2 separate regions of the Homo sapiens genome follow, and region 2 is linked to region 1. Evidence: fine-mapped expression QTL. Tissue or cell type: whole blood. Region 1 holds a variant in brackets; the other region holds the start of a gene. All regions are shown on one strand. Distances are between the middles of the regions.

Region 1 (2,765 bases):
TGTCTCAGCAGAACTGGAACATAAGCAAGAGTTAAGTCACATGAAGATAGGGTGGTGAAGATAGTAAGAGAGTTATAGGAAGAAAGGGCTGGAGAGAAGAGCATGATATGTTAAAACCCTGAAGTTAAATGTCACTTTACTAGGGGTTGGGGGTAATAGGAGGGGATCAAACCGAGGCCAGAGAGGGGAGGCCAGGTTGTAAAGGGTCTATGAACTACTTGAGGAAATTTAAATTTGAGCAAAGCAGTTAGAAGGGTCTTGTAGTCATCTATTTTAAGTATGTGTCTTGATTATGAGTGATAGAGGTTACCATTATTGATTAATATAGCTAAAAAATTTTCTGCATCTTGTTCAAATATTTTAAATATCATAGAATATTCAGAGATTCAAATGTACAGATTCCTACAGTAAATTTCTCTTGGAATTGAGTGTGAAAAACTACCACCAAATATTTATACATCCTTTTATTGGAAAATCAAAGCTGGAAAACTCAATGATTTTGCCTTATGAAAACTTAAAAACATTTTGTTTTGCAGTTCTTCAAAGTATCAAGTATTTATAATTTGTTTAAGAGTTTAGAAGTTTTAAAACGTTTTCTGGTGAAAATCTTGAGTTTAATTTTCACCAGAAAACCTGCTAGACAAATTCTAAAAGAGCTGTAACACATGTAATTTTTAAACTTTCTTTTCATTTTAGTTTTCTTGTTGAAAATGTTTTGATATTACTAACCATTCAGGATTTTCTCTAGAAGTAAATGGTTATAAATTATGTATATACCTTAAAATAGAAACAACACTTAAATTTCCTAGGTCTTACATTTTTAACCAGTAACTGCAATTGATACTTTCATAAGAATAATTATTTGCTCAAGACAGAAATCCCAGCAAAAAGGAAAATCACACTTAACTTTTTGAAATTAAAACATAACCAGAAGAATAACTGCGTAATTATTCTTTACTGCTGTGGGAGTCAATCAATAGCCCAGATGAATAGGTAGATGGATAGGTACACAGAAAGCTATCTGTACTATATCTTGAATATCAGCATAGTACTCTTCTGATCTTTGTGCTCCCCCACCCCCACCTTTCTCTTTCTCTCTCTCTCTAAAAATGGATTTTGCATGCTTTTTTCCATCATAACCATGGATGCATATGTATCTCATTCTGCTCCCCAAAGAGTTAACATGAACAAGCATGCAATAGAGAAAGCAAACCAGGAATTCCCATGCCCTAACAACCCCAACACACAAATTCAACCATGTTGACAAAATGGGAAGGGAGATCCTGCCAAATTAATAAGAAAGAGAAAGTGGGAAGAGAGACAGTTTGTTACCGGGTCTCACCTGCCTTCTTTGTTCATGAATAGGTTTTTACTCTTTAGCTTCAACGTGGGCAACAGCAGTTAGGCAAGATTCACACATTATTTGAAATTGGACAAAAAGGATACAAGAGGCCGGCTATGGTGGCTCATACCTGTAATCCTGGCACTTTGGGAGGCTGAGGCCCAGCCTGGCCAACATGGTGAAACCTGGTTTCTACTAAAAATGTAAATATTAGGTAGGCATGCCTGTAATCCTAGCTACTCAGGAGGCTGAAGCAGGAGAATTGCTTGAACCC[G/A]GAGGTGGAGGTTGCAGTGAGCCAAGATGGCACCACTGCACTGGGCAAGAGAGCAAGACTCTTTCTCAAAAAAAAAAAAAAAAAACAAAAAAAACAAAAAAAAGATAGTTAAGAGAAATTTCCTAGAATGCTGTGTATACAAGCTTTTAATATAGTTCTATCAAAATTTAGAAGGAAACTGAGATTTAATTTTTTAATTAAATTGGATATGCAGCCCAAGAAAGTATACGCCAACTTTTTACTTGACTACACATTTCACATCTTCAGATAACATTCAGTAACTTTTTAATAACAACTTGAATACATTACATTTAAATATTTTGATTATTTGTAGACAGTCTTCCAGCAACATAATTAATTTCTTCCCTTCATCAAAAATCTGTAATGAATTATTCTTTCAACTAAAGATTTTCCTCAGCATAATAAGACTACATTTAAAATCTAAGAAGCAAATGCTTCCCTACTTCAAGCTTATTTTTAAAAGGAAGCCAAAAAATGATCTTTTCTGAATAAAGTGTTTCAGAAAGGCATAGAATACTTCAATATTATAGTAATAATTATTGTAAAAGGATAGAATTCATCTCATACCATTCTATTACGTTTCCCCCTAGAACAAACAAAATGTATCCTCCTGAGTTTAATTTCAAGTCTTTGAAAAGAATGCAGTCTTCAGAAATTAGATAGGAATTTAAGCTCTAATTCATAAAACATCACTTTCCTCCATGGAACTAGTTGAAGATTACATATTAACAGCACTCCTTTAATTTAATATTCTAAAAAAACAGCATCTAAAAAAAAAGAAATAGTGAGCAGGAGGCCGGTCTGATGACAAATTACATTAAACAATATCATTATCCTTAGCCCTCAGTGTTTTCCATTTTCCAGATGTTTAAAAGACACAAAATGAAAACTCTCAATTGCCCAAGAGGTAGATGATGAACTCATTTTCCAGACAGGAAACTGAGGCAATGAGGCTTTGCCATAAAGTATAAAAATGGTCATCAGCAGAATCAAGATTAGAAGCAGAAACACCTGGTTACACATTGCTGCTCAAAACACATCAATAGAATGTCAGGAATAACGTTGGTTCTTTCTTGCAACCTGTGTTCCATCTTGCTGTATGACATGCAGAGCTGACAAAAGATGGAA
Region 2 (2,765 bases), 220 kb after region 1:
TCTAAAGCCCAAGCCTAGTGCTTGAAAGCTTTTTTTTACAGGGCATTTCCATGGAGAATAAAATCATGGAGTTCTTCTTCAGCCTAAAGATGTGTGGTCATCTTTGCAAATGGGCAAATGGGTTGTCATAAAACATGCAGTAATTGTAAACCCTAAGTGGCTTCTACTTCCTGCTGTTAAGAGCAAATTTGACACAAAGCTTTTGTACCTTTCCTTGCATGGTCTTCGTTACTGGACAAGGATTTAGTAGTTTCTTTACCATGTCAAAACCAGTGTGGCAAAGGGCACATGTCGGAGCCCTTTACTTGGTGTTTTCTGAGTTCCATCGTGCTTAAAGCAGTGCCCTCCCCCTGTCTGTCGGGACCTGCCTCCTCCCACCTCCATCACATCCACTCTCAAAAATCACAAGCATTCCACAGGTCCATTGGACTCTTTAGTCAGGCAATCATGAACTTCCAGTTACCAATGCCTTGCTTTTAAAGACCAAATTGACAGTATATGCTAGAGGTTTTCTTTTCTTTATTTTTCTTTCTTTTCTTTTTTTTTTTTTTTTTAAATCAAGCTGCTATAGATGCTTTCTGGCTGACTGAAAGGAAAGAGAATCTCTGGTAACTGCTGAAACTTGTAGAGGTTTCTCTTAGTAGCCCATTTTAGAAAGCAGTAAGAGTGCTTGCTGCGTTGTCTTCTCTATGCTGTGTCCTGCCGATTGCATGGAATGTTCTTTAGGGTTTTCAACACACAGCTAGAAGCCCACAGCCGCACAGAAAAAAGGAAGTTGTTAGCTTACCTTTATGACAGCTATAACGATTTTGGAGTCCCCAGCCTGCACAGCAACTGAACTGACTGTCGTCGTAGAAAGCGCAACACTAGGACTTCCTTGGCTGGACATGGTACTTTAGAACCAGAGTTTATACTTTGGGCAGCCTCTGGACAGTTGTGTGTCTGCTGGTCATTTCAGAAGGCCAGGGTTACTTGGATTCATTCAGGGAAAGAGCTCAGCTCACACTGATTACTCTGCCAAAAGGAAAGAACAGGAGGTTAAAAATAGACAACCCCATTGAGTTTATCGTGAGAGAGAAAGGAGCGAACGAGAGAGAATTGCCACGCCCCTAGTATGGTGACACTAAGTGCCTGTTATTTTTGCTGTTATCTTAAATGTGGAGGACAGCTTCAAGCTCTTTCCTTATCAGCTGATGTTTGATAACAAATGGAAAAAAAAATTACATCCTGACAACCCAAATTAGTTTTGCCACCGAAACTATGCCATTGTAACCATGGACTTTGAAACAAGTAAGTCTTTGACCTGGTTATCAATCTTTTCAAGATTTTTGAAATCTCTCTGATGCAAAGAGAACTACCAAAGTGTACTTTAAAAAAGTTTTGGTATTTGTCTTGGGGTTAAGTCACAAATTGCTTAAAACACATTTTTAGATTAATCTGCTTTTCTAAAACTTACTGTTCTTTGCTAAATGAAGTTTAGATGGAATAGCCACATTTTCTCAGAGCCTCAGATTTCTTAGGAATTTTTAAAAAATATTTCAACCAGCATTTATAAATAGGTGCCTATCATTTCAGATTTTCTTTGTGACTATTCTGCTCCATTGGACAAGGTTTTCAAGTTCAGTTATTAATACCATGAGAAAGCAAAATACTTTGCTGTTACCTTTTAATTGCAGCAAGAAAATGTTTTCTGTGTGGTTAAAAGTTATTAAGACATATATTTTGCTGCAATTAAAAACAAAAACAAAAAGGAAAGTACTGTGCTTCAGGCTTTTTATTCCCTACCCCCACCTCCTGTTCAGGAAAATTATAGCCAGCTTCAAATCAGTGCCCCACATTGGTAGATTAATCCTATTGCTAGAAACTCAGCCTGTGTCACAAGTTGTCTGTGGTATTAAACAGCAGCTGTTGGATTCCCTGTCAAAGAACAGCTGAAAATAACACTAAAGTTTAGGTCAGAAGTCAGATGCAAACATATCAGAGTTACTAACTCCAAAGCTGCTGGAAGCATTGGAAATCTCTGGGACAAAGCCACAACAGAGAATATAGCAAAAAACAGTTTTAATGAATCCACTTGCTCTGTAAACCTTTTAGCCCAATTTAATAGTAGGTTCAGGTTCAGGGCCAATGTTTAGAAGACTGAGTCAGCTCCATTGCTTTGTTTTGCTAAGGTTCATGATCATATTCTTGATTCAAAGGGGAAAAGTACTTTTACACATACTTCAGTGTTCAATTATTTTTGTTTCCAAGAGCATGTCATGGCTGCTCTGCAGCTGTGTAGCCACCACCCATGTCCTCTGCGCTCAGCATCTGCCTGCTGCCCCAGTGAGATGGAAACCATACCTAGATCCTAGTCCCTATGCAACACGAACTTCACCTGACCCCATGAAGGGAACAATTGGAGCGAGCTCAGGAAAGCAGATGCCGAGCAAGCTATGATGTAGCAACTATTGCAAATGGTTTCATTTTATGGCAGGGCTGGAGAGCTTGCAAAGAGGTAACTGACCTGGAAGGTTGCAGGCAGGCTCCTTCTTTCACTTGCATCTGTGTGAAGAGACCACCAAACAGGCTTTGTGTGAGCAATAAAGCTGTTTATTTCACCTGGGTGCAGGTGGGCTGAGTCTGAGAAGAGAGTCAGCGAAAGGAGATAGGGGTGGGGCCGTTTTATGGGATTTGGGTAAGTAAAGGAAAAAGGGGGGTTGTTCTCTGGCAGGCAGGAGTGGGGGGGTCACAAGGTGCTCAGTAGGGGAGCTTTTGAGCCAGGA

Evidence for each region. PIP is the estimated chance that this variant, and not a neighbour inherited with it, causes the effect.
Region 2: CCDC141 starts here. The variant in region 1 is fine-mapped to the expression of CCDC141 in whole blood (TOPMed, PIP above 0.99). The same link has a PIP of 0.9 or more in blood mononuclear cells.

The regions. Positions count from the first base shown.
Region 1 is chr2:178,830,783-178,833,547 of GRCh38, forward strand. CCDC141 (coiled-coil domain containing 141) reads right to left here. Exons shown (of 24, transcript NM_173648.4): 24 at 1-2,765. It also overlaps the pseudogene RNU7-104P. Among named protein-coding and RNA genes, the nearest start is that of TTN, 25 kb to the left of the region's middle. The variant G/A (reference allele first, on the strand shown) is at 1,617.
Region 2 is chr2:179,049,053-179,051,817 of GRCh38, forward strand. CCDC141 (coiled-coil domain containing 141) reads right to left here and starts at 1,085. Exons shown (of 24, transcript NM_173648.4): 1 at 788-1,085. The coding sequence starts at 889. RefSeq lists enhancers at 582-631, 822-1,071, 1,082-1,161.